Linked DNA regions of Homo sapiens: regions 1 and 2 are each reported to be linked to region 3. The links are microRNA targets in miRTarBase. Many come from high-throughput screens and were not tested one by one. Region 3 holds a microRNA gene; each other region holds the end of a gene's coding sequence.
The links. The annotated mature microRNA hsa-miR-3157-5p reads UUCAGCCAGGCUAGUGCAGUCU and lies in region 3 at 3,529-3,550, shown strand. An mRNA with a match to its seed (bases 2 to 7 or 8) in the 3' UTR can be bound and repressed. Matches are read on the target gene's strand: a 7mer-m8 pairs with bases 2 to 8, a 7mer-A1 pairs with bases 2 to 7 and ends in A, and an 8mer does both.

Region 1 (7,203 bases), not on the chromosome of region 3:
ATCTTTTTCAATCTTTTAACTTACAACCATTTGTATATTTAGATTTTATATAGGCTTCCTGCAAGCAGCATATAATTTAGTATGATTTTTATTCAGTCTGGTAAATTCTGACTTTACTTGGAATATTTTGTCTATTTACATTTAATGTAGTCAGTGATAAAATTTGGTTTGCATCTACCATTTTATTCAGTGCTTTCTATTGGTTCTGTTTCCTTTTTTCTCCTTTCTATCCACTTTTTGTATTGAGTGTTTTGAAAATTTAGTCCCATTTTCTTCTGTTAGCTTAGATGTCATATATCTCTTTATTATCCTTTCAGAGTTACCCTAGAGGTTACAAAATGTATCCTTGAGTTGTCATGGATCATTGAGTTATCAATGTCAACTTATACTTTTATCCTCCTCCTAAACAATGCAAGTGCCTTAGAAAAATTTAATCCATTTAGCCCTCTTCTGACTTATATATTACTCTTTTGTTTTATAACTGCATTGCTCCTATTATTGCTGTTTCTTATAATTTTTTTATGCAGTCAATAAGCCAATCCACATACCTGTCCTTAAATTTATTTCCAACCTTCCAACTGGGATAATTTTTCTTCTGCTTAAAAAGTACCCTTTAATAATTTCTTGTGTTGCAGATCTCCTAGTGACAAATTTTATTAGTTTCATTTGTCTGAAAATGTCTTTCGTTGCCATTCTTGAAGAATATGTTTGCATGAAGAATATGTTTGCCTAGAATCCTACTTTATTTTACTATTTCAATATATTGAACATATCATTCCATCTTTTTGGCTTTCATTGTTTCTGATGAGAAGTCAACTGTCAGCTTAATTATTGCTCTTATGAAGGTAATTTATCGTTTTTCTCTGAATGCTTTTAAAGGTTTTTCTTTTTCTTTTTGGCTTTCAGCAGTATTAGTATTCTAAGGTGTATCTAGGTATCGTTTTCTTTTTATTTATTCTGCTTAGGGTTAAGAAGTCTTCTTGAAAACAAGTCTTTTATCGTTTTTGGAAAATTCGTATTCCATATGATCTCCCAACATATTATTCCTTCCTTTAGTAGTGAAATTTCTTCAATCAGTGGTCCATGCCTACTCACTCTTTCTCCTTTTCTAAATCATTAAGCTATTCTAAATCTATCCTTCTCTCTCTTCTGTAATTTCTATCCTTTTGTCTTTCTGTGCTTCTTTCTAAATATCTCTCAGGAGAGATTCACTGAGTTTCTCACTTTTGCTACTGTATTTTTAAATTCTGGAATTTCTATTTTCTTCAAATCTGCTATATCATTTTTATTATGTCCAGTTCTCTTGAAATTTTCAATATTGGCATTTACCCTGTGAACAGAGTAAGTGTCTTAGCTCAGGCTGTCATAACAAAATACCATAGATTGGATAGCTTACAGCAGAAATTTCTTTTCTCACAGTTCTAGAGGCTACAAGTCCAAGATCAAGGTGACAGCATGGTTAGTTTTGGTTGAGAGTTCTCTTCCTGTCATCTAGATGGCCACCTTCTTACTGTGTCTTCACATTGAAGATGGAGGAAGAGAGGGAGAAAGGAAGAGAGAGAGAGGGAGAATGGCAGAGGGGGAGTGGAAGAAGGAGAGGAGAAGCACTGTGATGTCTCTTCTCATAAAAGCAATAACCCCATCATGAGGGTTCTTCCCTCATTACCTTCTCTAAACCTAATTCTCTCCCTAAGGTCCTGTCTCCAAATACCACATTGGGGGTTATAGCTTCAACATACGCATTTTCAAGGACACATTTCAATCCACAAGCATTCTACCCCAGGTAGAATTCATGTTCTTCTTGCATGCAAAGTACATTCATTCTATACCAACAATACCAAAAATCTTAACTCATTCCCATGTCAACTCTAAAGTCTAAAGTTCAAAGTCTCATAAATATTATCCAAATGAAGTACGGGTGAGACTCAAGATATGACTTGTCCTGAGGCAAAATTATTCTCCAGCTATGAGCCTGTGAAACCAGCCACACTATGTGCTTCCAAAATGCTATGGTGGGAGAGGCATAGGAGACATATTTCCTTCCAAAAGGGAAAAATCAGAAGAAAAAAATGGGTGATGGATCCTAAGCAAGTCCACGACCTGGCAAGGCAAATTCCACTGGATCTTAATTCTTGAGTATAGTCTTCTTTGGCTTAGTGTCTTGCTTTCTAAGCCCACTGGGGTGGCAACATCATTCCCATGGCTCTGCCCCTTTGACTCTACAATGCCCCATCCCCATGGCTCTAGGTAAGTGTCCTGTCCCTGTAGCTCTGCTGACCCAGGGTCCCACCCCATAGCTCTGCTGAGCTGGGGTCCACTGGGTGGTCCTTCTTCCAAAGCTCATGGTGAAAGCCACCTGGCTGTTGAAACTGGGACAATGGCCCTGATGATCTCTGGATCTCCTGTGGAATCATTTTTCCTTCTTCTTGAAGAATAGTGCATGTTTGCAGCTGAATAGTTCTATCATCCCATCCTGTCTAATTCAAGAAGTCCAATCAATAGGCTTCCTTAACTTCATCCTGCAATGTTTCTGCTCATATGATCCCATACACTTATCAAATGTCTGTTAACCCACCCTTAGCATTCACATTGGAAAGAGCTTTCTCGTTTTTTCCAATATAAATAGGCTAAGAATTTTCCAAATCTTCACATTCTGATTTCTTTTTGCTTAACATTTCCTTCTTCAATTCATCTCTTGCCATTCACATTTTATGATAAGCAGTCAGGAGGAACCAAGTTGCTCCTTTAACACTTTGCTTAGAAATATCCTCAGCTAAATATCCAATTTCATTGCTTGCAAGTTCTTCCTTCCATAAAACACTAGAACACAGTTCAGTCAAGGTCTTTGCCATTTTATAATAAGGGTCACCTTTCCTCTAGTTTCTAATAACATATTCCATATTTCCACCTGACAACTCACCAGAATCACCCTCAATGTCCATATATATAGTATGTACCTCAAAACTCTTCCAGCTTCTACCCATAACCAGTGGCAAGGCCACTCCCACATGTTTAGGTATTTGTTACAGTAGTACCCAACTCCTGGTACCAAAATCTGGCTTAGTCAGCTGGGGCTGCCATAACCAAACACCATAGACTAGATGGCTTAAACAACAGAAATGTATTTTCCCATAGTTCTGGAGGATAGAAGTCCACAGTAGTCAACATAGTTATTTTAAAGACTGTGTCTAATCACAAAGGCATAAGAATGATACAATGGACTGTGCGGACTTGGGGGGAAGAGTGGGAAGGGGATGAGGGATAAAAGACTATAAATATGGTGCAGTGTATACTGCTCTGGTGATGGGTGTACCAAAATCTCACAAATCACCACTAAAGAACTTACTCATGCAACCAAATACCACCTATACCCCAATAACTTATGGAAAAAATAAAGTCTGGGTCTAACGATTCCAATATTTTAGATCCTTTTAGGTCTGTTTCTATCATCTATTGTTTTGCCACTTGTTCAGACTGTCATGTCTCCTCACGTACCTGAATATTCTTGATTGTGTTCTAGAAATTGTGAAAATAGAGGTCTAGAATAATGTTAACTTTCTGTAAAGAGAATTTACATTTTATTTCTGGCAGGTTCCTTGAAGCAATAGAAACCAAGGATCTCGTTAAGTTCAATTTCTGGGATTGAGATTTTTAAAATCACTCAGATGATTAGAAGCTAAACTATATCATATGCCAGGGATAGTTTACTTCCAGTTAACCCTTACCACTAGGGCATAGACTTTTAGAGTCCCTACCCAAATGAAGAAGGTTTACCAGGGCCCCAACCTTGACTCAAGTTTTTTGTCCCCCTTGTTTTGCAAAGCTTTTAAAAATACTCCTCAGCCTTTCAGCCACATTTTCTAGAATTGTCATATTCTTCCAGGAAAAAAGTAGCTCCAAATGCCAGACCCAACCCTCTAAATTTCTATCTTCTCCTAGATCTTGGCCCAGAAATTCTTCACTACTTTATTAGCTCTCTGTTCAAGCTAATTAAAAATATGTATTTTTAAATATGTATTTTAAATCAGTGGCCCATGACTACTGCCCCTTTCCCTAGACATCATTGAATAATCTCACATCTGTCATTCTCTGCTTCCCTCTGCAAGAAGGAAGAGGGAGGATATACTTTGGGGACAGCTTAGCTTCATGTTCCAACCATTTAATTTATTGGTTGGTCATCTTTGTTGAGTGTCTGTAGTTAGCCTGACAACTAGACTTTTCTGCAACTAGATTTTATAATTATCATATATGCTTTACATAGGCTTTAATGAAATATATTTTACTTTCACTAAGTATAAATAGAAGATGATTTTTTTCTCCTCTGGCTTGATTTCACAGGTCACTATGGATGTCATAGAGTAGGTACCATAATCAGAAGTAAAGGCAGATGCATTCAATGCAAATTGTGTAAATTATTAATCTTATTAAATTTGCATGTCAGAAAAATGACTACCCCAACCTTAAGGCTTGCTTTTATCACAATAATAAGGTAGCCAAATGCTTTGGTCCTTGAATTTACATTTTATAGACAATATATAACATTACATGTAATAGATGTTTTATATTTTCAATTATTTCAGAGGTTATTTTACTATTAAAGTCAAAAGTTTTTCTGCTGTAATTTACAGCCACAGTTTGATATTTAAGAGTCACTTATTAGCTTTCTCTCTGCAATATTTCTTACCTTCCCTCTCATCTCAACCCTCCTTCCATGATTCCTTTTGATTGAGACTTAAGATTCCATTCTATTGGACCAAGGACTGAAGTAGAGAAATTATTTGTGTAAGATTATACAATTGGTGGCAGAGCTGGACAATATACAAAACTTCTGAATGCCAAACTAAAATTTCTCCCTAGCCCCAGTACTCTCCCCAACCTGATGGTTGGTATACCTTCAGGGCAAAACAGCAGCAGATGTGCCTCTACCACAAAAGGGTTGAGGGAGAAAGTATAAGCAAAAAGTTCACTCCATTCCCCTTCTCATGAGAATTTTACTTTCAGTTGACTCCCTAGCTCTATTCTCCTAGTAACTTGATAAGGTGATATGTGTCAACTGTGTTACTAAGCAATTTGAACTACTTAAAAATGACCCCTGATTGGTAAATTCCATCTGAACTGGGAGGAATGTATACCTAATAGAAAACCACAGCTTTGAGTTTCTGTGAGTATGTTGACTTTTGTAGCTGGGCAAATCCATGGTGGGGACCCTGGAAGCTATGCCTATGGAATTATTACAAGAGATTCCAGCCCCTGGGGTGTGAAGTTTTACGCCAGGGCAGCTCCTGTACCCACCCGGTGTGAACCTCTTTTCCTTGTATTGTATCTGCACTCCGTAAACTAAGGACTAAAGAAAACAGCTATGTGTTCTGCATGGGTATGGCAAGGGCTCCTACAGGAAGAGAAATGTCTGATGTTGCCTTGCTGGAAGCTGTTTCCTGTCTTATATTTTTCTAAGTACATTCATGCCAAATATGGTCTGTATTAGTCTCATGAGTATGACAGCCTTTAGTTGAGCCCAAGACCAACCCCTTGTGGGCACTGCAGAAGGTGTCTGAGCTAGAATTGGGCAGGCTCTGTGTCTCATGCCATGCTTACAGCTAGCACAATGCATTAGGGCATACCTTGTCTACTTCCATAAGAACAAGATTGTTTATATGTAACACTGACACATTCTATAGCTTCATTTGACGAGGTACACACATGCTAAAAGAACCCATAAAAATAATTTAGAGTCCTCTTTTTTGTATCACAAGAGTCTAATTGCTGTAATATCAACTCTAATTTTCTAATAATCTCAACAGTAGATAACATAAACTAGAGGAAATGTGCCAATTTAAGTGGAAGTCCTCCATTTCTTAAACAGCAATCTTCACATTATGATTGTTTGAGCACAGCACAAAGCTGAACAATGCCGCTTTTCTTCCTTTCTCTGCTTTTTTTCCTGGTGGAAAATCAAACTCACCTTAGCTGTTGTTCTCATTTTGAGTTTCTTTCTCAAGTAACATGGCAGCATTTGAGGCCTCATCTTGCTCTCCCTCAGTTAATTTCTTTTGAACCATGCTTTCCGTGTAACTGTGGATGATCTGATGGGCTGCAAGAATATGTTTCCGCTGTGCGTTCCTCACTGTGCCAAAGTAATAGAAAAATTTTCATTCTGAAAGTCTGAACAAAACCATTCCCAAATGTTTCAAGAGAGTCATGATAGAAATAATTTTGCAAATTAAAGGTAAAACCCAACCCAAATCTAATTTCTTTCTGCTCCCTCTGTTCCCACTCTCTGGTTCAGCCCAGTCATACTCCTTTCCACCAGGCTTGCCTCCATTCCACTCCTCAGCAGTTTCCCTCATCTGGAATGCCTGCACTCTAAAACCTGGAAAGCTCATGTCCAAGATCCTCCAGGAAGTCTCCTCTGACTACATCAGCCCAGATTTACCACTTACCGCACTTGAGTTTGTACCAACCTATTCAGCATTGAAGCACTTCATGTGAGTTACATTTCGTTTGATATCTAGAGTGTAAGTAACTTACAAATATAAAGACCTAGTCTTATACTTCTCTTTGAGCCTTAGTTCTTAATGTGGAAGGGACTTACTGATTGATGATGAGTTTATGAGCTCATGGCTTTAGAACATAGTCCTAGCTCCAAATTCTAAGAATATTCACTATCAGGGTAAGCACCTAAGCCCTTGGAAAGGAGTAGTGATGATGATGATGTTAACAGTTAGCATTTGTCCTTACTTTGTGCCAGGTACTGTTTTAAGCAGTTCACATGTAATTATTCATTTAATCCTCCTAGAAGATAGTATTTTAATATCCGCATTCTCAGAAGAAGAAACATGGACACAGAGATATTAGGTAATTTACATAAAGTCAAATAGCTAGTAAAGGACCGCAAGAAGTACTGTGGATTCTTTGCTGTTTGGGTATCAGGTAGTTTAGATAGGGTAATTCACTCAGCAGTTTTTAGCACTTCACAGTAATATGGTTGAAAAAGTGGGGGCTTTGGAGTCACATAGACCATGGTTCAAATTTGCAAGTCATATGTCTCTAAGAGCTAATTTCCATTAAGTGAAAAATGAGAATATACCTACAACTCTTGAAAGAAATTGAGATAGTGTACATTTAAAAATGTTCAGTGAACTTCTTGGAACTTAGCATGCATTTAAAATTTGGCAGTTACTATTACTTTATATCTATATACAG
Region 2 (7,203 bases), not on the chromosome of region 3:
TACATCAAATCCCAGATAAGCTATGATTTTTTTGTTGTTGTTAGCCTGAAGGAGAGGCAAGAGATTGCCACAACTCTAAATACCTCAGATAACATCAGGCCATCTGTTGCTTTTTAATGCAGATATTTTAGCATCAAAAAGCAATGGGAAATGTAGAAATGGGAAAAACACTGAAGGCAGTTTTGTTCTTGCAGTCTGTCAGATTTTCTCCTTTTCCCAGGGTAGGGATCGAGGTTCTGAATAAGCCATTTCATTTTATAATAAAAAGCAAAACTCCCTCACACATGCTGGTTATTCTAGAAAAATTTATATATATATCACTAGGGACTTAACTAAGAATGTGATTTTTTATCTTTTTAAGGGAGAGTCTCACTCTGTTGCTCAGGTTGGAGTGCAGGCATGTGATCATAGCTCACCGAAGCCTCAACCTCCTGAGCTCAAGTGATCCTCTTGCCTTAACCTCCCAAGTAGCTAGGACCACAGGTGGGCATGACCACACCTGGCTAAGTTTTAAAATTTTTCTGTAGAGATAGTGTCTCACTATGTTGGCCAGACTGGTCTCAGATGCCTGGGCTCAAGCAGTCCTCCTGCCTCAACCTCCCAAAGTGCTGTATGATTGTTTTAAATAGGAAAAAATTTAGAATTTTATAATATCAAGGCACTTAATTTTTAGTTAGTGATATACCATCCAAAAGGCATCTGAGGCTGGGCACGTTGGTTCATGCCTATAATCCCAGCACTTTGGGAGGCCAAGGCAGGAGGATCGCTTGATCCCAGGAGTTCAAGACCAGCCTGGGCAATGTAACAAGATCCCATCTCTAAAAAAATAATGATTAAAAAAATAGAGACAAAAGGCATCTGAAACATAGGAACCTAATTAAAACATTATATGTATATACATATTTTCATTAAGCGTATGTGTTAAAATATCATCTAGACCAATGTTTTAAGGGATTGTTTTTCTAAATATATTAATAAAACTATTAAAAGGCCAAAAAGCTGTCCTAACTTATGACTTTTTTTTGAACCTAAATTTAGATGCCCCTCAAGGGATGTATTATTAGTAACAATCATTCTTGGTAGTGTTGCCCTTAGTCATATGTTGTCCTCTGAGATTGTGTATTCTTGAATAGATAACAAGTGTATTTACAAATCTTCTTTGCCAGTTTCAAACAAAGTTTCTTAAAATTTCCTAGTACGGACTCCAGAATTCCTCAGCAGCATCCTTTCATCAACCTACCCAACCTGTAGCTAAGAATACCTCCATGAGCCCTCGACAGCGCCGGGCCCAGCAGCAGAGTCAGAGAAGGTTGTCTACTTCACCAGATGTAATCCAGGGCCACCAGCCAAGAGACAACCACACTGATCATGGTGGGTCAGCTGTACTGATTGTCATCCTGACTTTGGCATTGGCAGCTCTTATATTCCGACGAATATATCTGGCAAACGAATACATATTTGACTTTGAGTTATAATATGGTTTTGTGACTTATGAGCTGTGACTCAACTGCTTCATTAAACATTCTGCATTGGGTATAATCTAAGAATTGTTTACAAAAAGATTATTTTGTATTTACCCTTCATTCCTTTTTTTGATCCTTGTAAGTTTAGTATAAATATATCTAGACATTCAGACTGTGTCTAGCAGTTACGTCCTGCTTAAAGGGACTAGAAGTCAAAGTTCCTTGTCTCACTATTTGATCTGCTTTGCAGGGAAATAACTTGTTTTTTCTCATGTTTCATCTTCTTTTTATGTAAATTTGTAATACTTTCCTATATTGCCCTTTGAAATTTTTGGATAAAAGATGATGTTTTAAGTTCCAATGAGTATTACTAGTTACTCAATACCACTTATTGAGTACTCTGTTTCTACGTATGTAGAATGTATAGGGATAGAAGAGTTGAAAAGGGAAAGCAAAACTCCTCAAGTAGCTTCCTTAAAATGTCATTCATAGGAGATGTACTGGAATTGCTCATTCTGTGACTTTATTTGTGTCCTAAACATTCTTCAGTGAAAATAATTTTATTTCAGTCAAACATTTATGAGGAAATGAGATCACATCTTTGTCACTGGATGCTACTTGAAGAGGGAGTACTTTGTAACCACTTTGATATGCTGTTATCACCACCCCCTGCCCTCTGCTGCCATAATCACACAAATTTAAAAAGAAAGAAAACAGTCTTCCATAGATTTTTAAGGAAGAAAGGGCCCAAGCCAGGAGATCGCTTGGTTTTCTTCCAGAAGTTAAATGGGGGGATCTGAAGATTTGAATGTTTGGTCTGCTTTGAAATGTATGTCTTTTGGGATGTATTATATGCCTAGCTTTATAATCAGTATAAATTTTAATTATTCCAGGAATATGCATAATATTGAAATATTTCATGTCCTATTTTAATAGAAAACCTCAGGGCCCAAGTAACAGTGATAGAAGTTAGAAAAACCTTTACTTAGAATTGTCCACCTAGTCAGAGCCCAAGAAAGAATTTTCAGTGGAAAAATCAATATATAACTTAGTGCTAGCTAGCGCCACAGACTCTAGTAGATAATATTATCATCATAATGGCTGGTGAAACCATATAATCACAGAAAAACATTGCCTTCAGCATGTTCAGTTCGCAGCACTGAGGGCACTCTTGAGGGTGTTGTTAATGAAGATTTAATTTTTAAATACAGGTGGTTCCAAGCTTTCAAATAGGTTATGCTCCAAAAGTGTTATTTGTAAGTTAATTTTTTTACAAGTCAAACAATGTTGGAAGTGGTATTTAGGTTCTAGATCGGTCCACGAAAGTTAGCCCATATGTATATCTTGAATAGTATAGGGGAGGGTATTCATAAAGTCCTTATGTGGTTTTAACTAAGTGAAATTATGGACAAGAGAAATAATTGTAAAATCGTCTTAAAGGAAAATTTAATTTTTACTCCTGTTTATGGGACATTCGTTCTATTAACTGTCAGACACAATTTCTGTTTTCATCTGAGAGCCAGTTTTCCTTTATTTCTACATCTAAAATAAGAACATATTGTACACTATTATATAATACAGAATTGTCTTAAACTTTAATAAATTCGCATTTTAAAGGTGTTTACAGATTATTTTTTATATCTGTAGCTGAATTTGTTAAAGTCTAAAAAGCTCAAGGACTTTATGAAGATCTCATTATATGAGGAAAATCATAGGTTACCATTTTATAACTCTATTGCCATAAGAAAATACACTCTAAAATCTTGATTTGAAACATATTAGAAACCTTGATTCAGTGCTCAGTGGTCTCCTAGTAAGAAGTCACCGACGGTAGCGTCATATGAGAAGAAAGAAATCCCCACCACCTCAACCTCTGCTGAGATTGTGTGCTAGGAACAGCCTTCCCTCCGTTTCCCCTCAGTCAAACTTGAGCCAGCCTCTGGATCGATGTGATCTTATTGCATGTTTCCATGGGGTGTACCTATACTTTAAGCCAATCCTGCTGCATTCACTGCTAAGTTAAATAAAAAGCCAAGAAGATTTTGCACTGTGCAGATCCTTTGCTATCTGACTTGCATCTCTTCCCCCACCTGTCAGCTAGCCACCTGCTTGTTTGTGTTGGGATATTTTTTAGCACCTGAAGCACCATCTGAAAGGGGCACCATTTTCTTCTTCCCTTTGATCTCACATATGCTCCCTAAAAATCCTTAAGTTGTCAATCTGATCCCCAGTGTGAGGTTAATGAGCAAAATTGGTCTTTGGGGCCCTTTTTGTCCAAGCCCCACTGAAAGGCCTCTTCAGAAAACTATTATCTTTAAAGCCCTACTTTAACTCCTTAATTCCAGCATACAGCTAAAACTGGATGTATATTCTGGCAAGTAAAGGCTGAGGACTCCTCTTTAATCCTCAGATCTAGATAACTCATGACATTTTATTTGACCAACATAGCACATGATGAGATATCAAGGTAATTAAAATAGCATGCTTGAAAAAAAAATACGTAATCTGTTTCACCTGTAACTGTTTAAGCCAATAAACTTTTCAAAATTTATGTAATGTGGGGCTTTTATGTAGCACTTTACGTTTTCATGCTGCTTATTGTTTTATTCTACTGAAAAAAATGAATTTCAAGATTCTCAACTTTTTTAATTTCAAAAATTGTTTATTGTTTTGACTATAGGAATACAAAATTTCCTATTTTGGGAGAATAAGAACTCTTTTTGTCATTTTTGGCTATGAATAAACTTTCTGGTCTTTTGAGACCACCCATTTTTATAGATCAGAATCAGAAAACAGGTAAACCTCACTCACACATTTGGACTCATTTGAACAAAAATCTAGGCCAAAATACTGAAAAGCCTATGTGTTTTTTTAATTGGAAGTATATGTAAGGTTAATGCATTTAGTGAACGTGACTAACAAAGACTAATGTGCACATTAACAGATGTACTTTTTAAGGTTTTATGGGAGGCTGTGCATTGCTCAAAAGCTGTTGGGAACGCCTTCTGAACAGTTGCCTTCAGAACTAGTTTGAGCTGCTCAATAAAACCAGTGACTTTACTCATACCTTGTTTTTGACCAAAGGTTGTATTCTTTACATCATCCAGTCTTGTCTCTCATCCATTCTACCTCCTAGAATATTTCTCTCTCATCTTTCCACTTCCCTAACTAGGCACTATATCCTATTTAGCTATTAACTCCTCCAAATTGGTGCAGTAACCTCCTAACAGGTCTCTAGTCTCACCCCATTCCTTACATTGCAGCCAGAGTTTTCAATATACAGACCTGATCTCTTCTCTCCTGTTGCTCTTAGATAGGGTGAAACCCTTAACATAAAGCACAAGGCTGTGCATGACTAGAGTCCCACCTAGGTGTCTGGCATAATCAGACCTCAGCAAATGCCTTTGGGGCCTTCCCACAGCTCTGACCTCGATCCACTGGGGCTATACCCTGCCCTGAGAAAAATGAGTAAATAAAGTTATACCATCCACTACCTCATACACCATATAAGAAAATTAACTCAAAATGGATCAAAGGCCTAAATGTAAGAGTTAAAACTATAAAATTCTTGGAAACTTAGTAAACGTGACAATGGGATATGCAGTGGTTTCTTAAATATGATATCAAAAGCACAAGCAGGTCTGGCATGGTGGCTCAGGCCTATAATCTCAGCATTTTGGGAGGTGGAGGATCACTTGAGGCTGGGAGTTTGAAACCAGCCTGGGCAACATAGCAAGACCCTGTGTCTACAAAAAATTTAAAAAAAATTAGCCTGTAGCCCTAGCTATGCAGGAGGTGGAGGTGGGAGAATTGCTTGAACCCAGGAGTTTGAGGTTACAGCGAGCTGTGATAGCACCACTGCACTCCAGCCTGGGCCACAGAGCAAGATCGTACCTCTTAAAAAAAAAAAAAGAAAAACACAAGCAACCAAAAAAAAAAGAAAATTATATTTCTTTAAATAAAAAACTCTTGTGTATCAAACAACACCACTAAGAAAGTGAAAAGACAACACAATGGGAGAAAATATTTGCAGATCACATATCTAATAAGGGACTTGTATCTGAAATATCTAAATAATTACAATTCAGTAATAAAAAGGAAATAACCTGATTTTAAAATGGCAAATAATTTGAATAGAGATTTCTACAAAGAAGATATCCAAATGCCCAATAAGCACCTGAAAAGAAGCTCAACATCCTTAGTCATTAGGGAAATGCACATTAAAACCACAGTGATTCCAGTTTACACTCACAAGGATGGTCAGAACAAAAAAGCCAGATAACAAGTGTTCGTGAGGATGTGGAGATATTGGAACTCGCATACATTGCTGGTGGGAAGGTAAAATGGTGCAGCCACTTTGAAAAACAATTTGGCAGTTCCTCAAAAGGTTAAATATAAAGTTACCATATGACCCAGCAATTTCACTGCCACATATAATATCCAAAAGGAATGAAAACATTTACACACAACCTTGTACACAAATATTCATAGCAGCATTATTTTTAATAGCCCCAAAGCAGAAACTCAAATGCCCAGCTGATGGATAAGCAATATGTTGTATCTATACATACAACATATTGTATGTATATGGAAATGGAATTGTATGTCTATGGACATATTGTATGTCTATGGAAAATGGAATATTATGGCCATAAAAAAGAATGAAGTGATGATATATGCTTCATTGATGAACCCTGGAAACATTACGCTGAGTGAATGAAATCAGACACAAAAGGCTGCATATTATATCATTCTAATTACATAAAATGTCTAGAATTGACAAATTCATAGAGACAGAAACTAGTGTTGGTTGCCAGGGGCTGAAGGGAATGGGAAAGGGGAATGACTTCTAATGGGTATGAGTCTTCTTTTAGGGGAGCTGCATAACGGAATATTCCAAAAGCCACACATTAAAGGGGTGAGTTTATGGTATGTGAATGATATTTCAATAAAGTTGTGATTAAAAAAATAATTATACCATCCTACAATGGTTTTCTCCTGACTGTAATTACAATAATTGAACTATTGATAAAAGGGCTTTAAAGTAAAAAATTGGTAGGACCTAAAGTTGTCTACATGCAACAAAACAAATATTTATTGAAAACCACCACCTTAAGCTGCCTTTACAAAAATTATAACTGAGAAAATTATGACAGTAAAAGAGATCTGACCTGACTCTTATCTTGCTTCTGACCTCCCAGCTGCCCTTGTTCATTCCTGAGCGTAGGTTAAACTAACTTTGGGAGGAACTTAGTTTATAGTTTAACTTTGAAACAAAGACAGTAACAGCCCTTTTCCAAAACAAGCCCTCTATCCACCAAATTATCTTGAAAAGCCACGATCGCTGAGTTTTCCAGGAGTCTGATTTGAGTAATAATAAAACTCCAGTCTTCCATACAACCAGCTCTGCATGAATTGAACTCTTTATTCCAATTCCCCTGTCTTGATGAATTGGCTTTGCCTGGACAGTGCGCAAGGGGAACTTGTTGGGTGATTACACATCCAGGCACAATCCTAGGGTTCAAGCCAGTCCTTTATAAGCTTATTCCAAATGGAAGTAAGGAAAAGAAAGATCCTTTGAACAAAATCTATGGAAAAGAACTTTAATAGGCCTCATGCCTCCCACTACTAAGGCTTCAGGAGGAGAAGGACTTTTAAACAAATTCCCTTGATGATTCTGAGGCGTGGTCAGATTTGGGAACCACTGAATTAGTCCCTGTAATGAATTACTCCCAGCCTC
Region 3 (7,203 bases):
CAGGCAGCCACTACACCCAGCCTGCATTTGTATTCTTACACATTCTGTCTTTGAGGTTATAAAATAATTCTTCCATGGTTTCTTTTTGGTCAGAATTTAAATGTTTTATTTGTTTATTTAATTTTGTTTTAAGAGATGAGGTCTCACTCTGTTGCCCAGGCTGGAGTGCAATGGTGAGATCATAGCTCACTGTAATTTCCAACTTCTGGGCTCAAGCGATCCTCCCACCTCAGCCTCCCTAGTAGTTGGGACTACAGGCATGCACCATCATGCTTGGCTAATTTTTAAATTTTTTTGTAGGGATGGGATCTCACTGTGTTGCTCAAGCTTGTCTTTGAACTCCTGGATTCAAGTGATCCTCCCACCTCAGCCTCCATAGTAGCTAGAACTACAGACACGTACCACTACACCTGGCTAATTTTTGTATTTTTTACAGAAACGAGAGTCTCGCTATATCACCCAGGCTGGTCTCAAACTCCTGGCCTCAAACAATCCTCCCACCTCAGCCTCCTAAAATGCTGGGATTACAAGCATAAGCCACTGTGCCCAGCCTAAAACTTAAATTTTTTGAGGTGTGGAATCCAAATTTGTTTTTCTAGGTGGCTACCCAGTTGACCTAACTCAATTTATTGAATAATATTTATTTTCCTCTACTAATTTAAGATACCACCTTTATTATATAATAAATTCTAAATATGTTTATTTTGGGAATTTCTGTTCTGTTTCACAGAATTGTGTGTCAACTCATTTGCCAGTACCATTTTTATTTTTTATAGATTTGTAATATATTTTAATATGTCATGGGGCTTTTCTATATTCATTATTCTTTATTTAGGTAATTTAAAAAAATTACCTTGTTAGAGTATGTTAAATTTATAGATTAAGGACAATTGACATCTTTATAAAGTTTACACTTTCTATAAAAGTATATGGTATGCCTTGTGCAACTTTCTTTTGTGTCATAAGTATTTTAGAGTTTTCTTTATGTAGATCTTGTGCATGTGTTGTATTTATTGCCATTTTGTCTTATTTTGGTGGCCATTATAATTGAGTATATCTTGCATTAAATCTAATTGGTTGTTGTTTGTATATATGAGAGCTATTTTAATTGTGTAGCCAGCCAATTTACTAAATTTCCTTATCACGTGTGATAGTTTTTCAGTTGATTACCTTGCATTTCCAGGTATACATTGATTCTGCAAATAGTTGTAATTTTACCTCCTCCTTCCCAATGTTTAAACTGTATTTTATTTTCTCTTGTTTAGTTGTATTGCATGTATAGGTAGGTATTAGTTTTTTTCTTTTTCCCTTTTATAATTCATTTTTACTGCTTTTGTCTTATTTCTTTCCTCCTGCTTTTGTTTGGTTTCTTGTTCTTAGACTTTTTCAGTTGGATGTTAATTTTATTCTGAGCATTGCTTTAGTTTTATCCCAGAGCTCATGATACGTAGAATTTTTGTTACAAGTGATTTTCTAGATAATTTGAAATTTCAGTTTCGATTTCTTATTTGACCTAAAGATTATTTGAGTTCTTTGGTCCTATTACATATTTCTTTTTAGTCACATTTTCATCAGAATATGTCTTCTGTAGTAATTCTACTTTTTGGAATTGTTGCAGTTTTTTGGTGGATTAATACATAGTCAAGTTTTGTAAAACCTCACATTAGAGTTTGATATTATCCAAGAAAACTTACAGAAATATAGTCAGTTATTAGTATACTGTTGTGTAAAGTGAAATCCAGTAATGGATTGACCTCATCTAACAAAGGCAAAAGTGGAAGTGTTTTTGCAGTTTGGAAACCATGAATTTTATTTTCTCTAGATAAGCTGCAGATTAGCTGGTAGCTAGCAAAGAGGCCAGTAAGGATATTCTGATCTCAGGCACCTAGATGGGTCAACAAAGAAAGCAATTTCAGTTATCTAAGGACTCTTTAGAAGACAGAATTTTGCTGTTGGCATGCGTGACAGGCTATCTCTGTACATCTGGCGGTGTACTTTGTTTTCTCTGCCGTCTTTGTTATTCCAGGTCTGCACCATTTCCTTCTCAGAATATCTAATATGTGTCCATTAGATGAACCATAATGGTGTGTTAGGGTTTTGTATATCCTTGCTTTTTTTTTTTTTAATGTTACTGATCTGTCATGGACTTAGAGAAATAAATTAGTTTCTTACCTACCATCTTTTTTTTTTTTTTTGAGACGGAGTCTTGCTCTGTCACCCAGGCTGGAGTGCAGTGGCGCCATCTCGGCTCACTGCAAGCTCCGCCTCCTGGAGCTTTCTCCTGCTTCAGCCTCTGGAGTAGCTGGGACTACAGGCGCCCGCCACCACACCCGGCTAACTTTTTGTATTTTTGGTAGAGACGGAGTTTCACCGTGTTAGCCAGGATGGTCTCGATCTCCTGACCTCGTGATTCGCCCGCCTCGGCCTCCCAAAGTGCTGGGATTACAGGCGTGAGCCACTGCACCCTGCCCCATGTTTTTCTTTTATTTCTCTGTAAAACCTTTATAGTTTGTGCATAATATTGCTACAGTTATTTGATCCAGAAGTATTAATAACTTCATCCTTATCATGAACTGTAACCTTTAGCATTATAAAGTGCCCTTTTTAAAATTTGGTTTAATACATTTTGGCCAAAATTCAGCCTTGTCTGTTATTAAGATCTTGATCCTTGCTTTTTGTTTGAGTTTTTCTGGTATCTCTACTTTTTCGTTGATCTTCAACCTTTCTTAATCATTTTATTTTAGACCTGTCTCTCATACAACATAGATTTGAGTTTCACTTTGTGATTCAGTCTGAAGTTCTTTTTCCCTTAATAGTTGAGTTTGTTTTCATTTATTGATTTGATATGTTTGGACTTAGTTCTGTCAGATTATTTTGTTATACTTTTGCTATTTATACCTTTAAAGTATAGTTTACTATATGGAAAGTTTGCTTTGTTTTATTCCTTCTTTTCATAATTAGAAAGCTTTGTGTTTTTGTTCCTGTAGTTAACTTTGTAATACAGATTGTATAATCAGTATTTCTGTTTTCTATTTAGCCAGTATCTCAGTATCTGTAATTCACTTTTATAAGTAATAACAGAATTAGTATATTTCCTTTCCTTTATTCTATCCCTCAATTCTATCAATTTTGTTTTCTTTCTTAGGGTTTACCTTTGTACCATTAAATATCCATGTACCATTCTTACTCAATTTGTCATTATTGCAGAAAGCTTTCTGACTCCCATCTTCTCTTACTAACCTACCCTGATACTGTCAGATCATTCTTCCTAAAACCACCATTTTCTAAAATCATTATTCTTTCTAAAACCAATCTTCCTAAAATCATCATTCTTCCTAAAATCACCAGTATCATATCACAAATCCTCAGCGATATCTCTGACCCCACAAAGTCTGTATTCTCTTCTGGCTTTCAAAACTCCGTAACTCAACCTCATTCTACTCACTCAACTTTATTTCCTCTACAACTTCTCAATGAGTCTGCCCTCACTGTCCAACAATTGAGCTGAGAATATAAGAAGGGAAGGGCTTCAGCCAGGCTAGTGCAGTCTGCTTTGTGCCAACACTGGGGTGATGACTGCCCTAGTCTAGCTGAAGCTTTTCCCTTCTTTCTACACCCAGCTCAAGTCCCAGGTCCATAAAACCTTTAGAAACTCTTCAGAAACTCTTTAGAGCTTCAGAAGCTCTTGAGAATTGGAAGATGTTTACACCCAAGTTCAAGGATTACTTCCATCCCATTTCTGGTCTATGTCAGGGGCCTCTGTTAACTAGGAACTCAGGAACTCTCAAAGCAGCACTACTCTGTTTGTAACATTCTGGCTTATTATTCATTGAAATGTGAGAAACTTTGGACCACTGACTTAATTCTGCCCTTTGCAGTAATAGGACTTCTCACATCTGGGAAGACAAGCATTTTACCTTTCCTTAGGCTTCCCCAGGTGAAAACACCACCAGTTCCTTCAGTTGTTACTCATATAACATGATTCCTGGACCCATCACCAGCTTGTGGCAAAACTTGGGTTTATCACCATTCCACTTAAAATTCAGTTCACAAGATTTTTGTAGATACGATCTAACCAGTGCTGAATCTGATGGGACTGTGCCTTCCTATGATCAGAGTACTCTACTTTTTAAATCAACCCAAGGCAGCATTTGTTTATTAGTCACTGCCTACTTTTACACTGCATTTTTGTTGTTGTTGTTTTGAGACAGGGTCTCACTTTGTCACCCAGGCTGGAGTATAGTGGCACAAACATGGCTCACTGCAGCCTCGACCTCCTGGGCTCAAGCAGTCCTCCTGCTTCAGCCCCACAAGTAGCTGAGACTACAGGCACACACCACCACGCCCAGCTAGTTTTTTTATTTTTTGTAGAGATGGGGTTTTGCCATGTTGGCCAGGCTGGTCTTGAACTCCTGAGCTCAAGTGATCCACCCACCTTGGCCTCCAGAAGTGCTGGCATTACTGGTGTGAGCCACCGTGCTGGCCAATTTTTTGTTACCTACATCCCAAGAGCCTATGATGTGCTATCATACATCAGATCCCTATCACACACAGGGGCGTAAGATGAGTAAGACAAAATCCCTGCTCTCAAGAAACATATGTTCATTCTATGAAATACCTAACCACGGATTTTCAGAACTGTCGAGGTCATCACAGACAAAGTCTGAGTAACTGTCACAACCCAGAGTTGCCTAAGACCTGAGTGCTAAAGGTAATGTGATATCCTGCATAGGAATCTGGGAGAGAAAAAGGATATTAGGGAAAAACTAAGGAAATTTGAATAAAGCATGGATTTCTGTTAGTAATAGTACATCAGTACTGGTGCATTGTGACAAATGTACCATCTCAATATATTAATAAGAAGAGAGACTGGCTGTGGGCTATATGGGGACTCTGTGTACTATCTTAGTAATAATTCTGTACATCTAAGCTGTTCTAAAATTAAAAATCTTAAGAAAAAAAAAGGACAGCCTGGGTAACATGGCAAACCCCCACCTCTACAAAAAATTGTAAAAATGAGCCAGGCATGTGGTGGTGTATGCCTACGATCCTAGCTACTCAGGAGGCTGAAGTGGGAGAATTTTTTGAGCCCAGGAGGTCGAGGCTGCAGTGGGCCATAATGGCAACACTGCGCTCCAGCCTGGCAGACAGAGGGAAGATATGTTTGACATAGTTTAGATATTTGTCCCCACCCAAATCCATGTTGAAATGTAATCCCCAATGTTGGAGGTGGGGCCTAGTGGGAGGTGTTTGTCATGGGGGCGGATCCCTCATGGCTTGGTGCTGTCCTTGTGATAGTGAGTTCACTTCATGTGAGATCTGGTTAAAGTGTGTGGCACCTTCGCCTACCCCCACTTGTTCCCACCAAGTGAGATTCCTGCTCCTGCTTACCCTTCTGCCATGTTTCTTGAGGCCTCCCAGAAGCCAAGCAGATGCCAGCTCCATGCTCCCTGTACAGCCTACAGAAGCATGAGCCAGTTAAACCTCTCTTCTTTATAAATTACCCAGTCCTGAGTATTTCTTTATAGCAATGCGAGAACGGCCTAACACAAGGTTCTAGTAGGGAGAAACTAGCAAGTAAATGGATACAAGACAGTCACTCTTACATTTTTAATTACAGGTCCCTTTGAGTAGACAAAACTTTAAGAATAGGGGAAATCATTTACATATAAATTGCATACCATGTCAAGGCTTCATGGACTTAAGAACTAATAAATTCAGGGTGGTGATGCTTACCTGGGAGGCAGAGGGTGTTATGGGAGGAAACAGAGTGGTAGTCAGGCAAGGATAGGATAGCAGGTGTCCTTCCCATATGATCCCTGAGCCTGGTCCTTATGCTGTCAACTGACTGTACTTGCTACTTTAAAATCTAAGGGATTGAAAAATGAATGTTGAGTGATTCCTAAACTAACACGATATTAAACCGAGTTCCAGACTACACCAGCCTAATTTTATTTAGTGGCAGACTCTAGCTCTGTTGCCCAGGCTGGAGTGCAGTGGTGTGATCTCAGCTTATTGCAGTCTCCACCTCCTGAGTTCAAGTGATTCCTGTGCCTCAGTCTCCCAAGTAGCTGGGACTACAGGTACGTGCCACCACACCCAGCTAGTTTTTGTACTTTTAGTAGAGACAGGGTTTCACCATGTTGCCCAGGCTGGCTTCAAACTCCTGGCCTCAAGTGATCCACTGGCCTCAGCCACCCAAAATGCTGGGATTACAGGCATGAGCCACCGTGCGGGCCTCTACTAGCCTAATTGCTGCAAGTGTGCTAGTCGTATTTATCAAACTAGATGTAAGCTGCTTGAGGCTAGGGAGGCTTTTACCACGTGCCTGAGAGGCAGTTGTTGGTTATAAACTTGCCACATGGGGCTCAGATCACCTCAAGGCAAAGCTACCTGGCCTGGTTTGGAATGCTTTTTCTTTTTCTTAAAGTCAGCCCTAAAGAACATGGTATATTAACTCTTGAGGGCTGCTAAACCCTGGCACTGTGCCAGAACAAGTGACAATACGATAGTTTTGAGACTAATTTCAAAAATGTTTTTTAAAAAGGCAGTGTAAATTCCTAACCCGCTTGTACAAACCTGTTAAATTTTACTTTTCAAAACAAATTCCATCTGCTAAGGTTTGAGTTGAATTAAGTAGCAAATGATATTTATACTCAGGTAAATAGACCATTCTCACTCACTGTAGACCCTATATTCCTTCTCATAGCTTTAACCATTTTCTGTGTCCCTACTTTTGACATCAAACTTCAGATTTTCTGATGCTTGCATGATTGTTGAATAAATTAGAATCTGTAGTTGCTAACATACTAACAACTGATTTTAAGCTCAAAAAGGCAACAGTGGTGTCCAATATACTTTTGTGGGCTTTAATGCTCAGTATGGAATACGCAATGAACGGATGTTTTATGCCACTAATGGCTATATTCTACATCTTGATGGCTTTTAGTAAATAAAATCATGATTCCAAGTCTGAATTACATGATGAGATGGTTCACTAGAGCTGCAAATATACAAGTTTGTATTTAAAACAAAAATACCGAAGCCATTTTACTGAAAACTAGTTTTATTTTAAAATTAAGTGCATAGCACTCATCTAATTCCATTGGTGTAGACTTTAGCACCATACTTGCTATTTGCAATTAATGTCGTAACACAGATACATTTTGGTTTGCAGTCTGTACTTGAGTAGTGTTTATTTAG

Region 1: the mRNA of CFAP91 is a reported target of hsa-miR-3157-5p. The part of its 3' UTR that is shown has no 7-base or 8-base seed match.
Region 2: the mRNA of UBE2J1 is a reported target of hsa-miR-3157-5p. The part of its 3' UTR that is shown has no 7-base or 8-base seed match.

The regions. Positions count from the first base shown.
Region 1 is chr3:119,749,858-119,757,060 of GRCh38, reverse strand. It overlaps CFAP91 (cilia and flagella associated protein 91), which reads right to left. Exons shown (of 18, transcript NM_033364.4): 17 at 5,963-6,124. The coding sequence ends at 5,964. Among named protein-coding and RNA genes, the nearest start is that of NR1I2, 29 kb to the left of the region's middle.
Region 2 is chr6:89,323,951-89,331,153 of GRCh38, reverse strand. It overlaps UBE2J1 (ubiquitin conjugating enzyme E2 J1), which reads left to right. Exons shown (of 8, transcript NM_016021.3): 8 at 1,197-4,529. The coding sequence ends at 1,475. Among named protein-coding and RNA genes, the nearest start is that of GABRR2, 12 kb to the right of the region's middle.
Region 3 is chr10:96,060,716-96,067,918 of GRCh38, reverse strand. MIR3157 (microRNA 3157) reads left to right here and starts at 3,520; the gene lies at 3,520-3,604. CCNJ (cyclin J) reads right to left here. Exons shown (of 6, transcript NM_001134375.2): 6 at 7,049-7,203. All of the region lies in intron 2 of ENTPD1-AS1 (ENTPD1 antisense RNA 1), which reads left to right.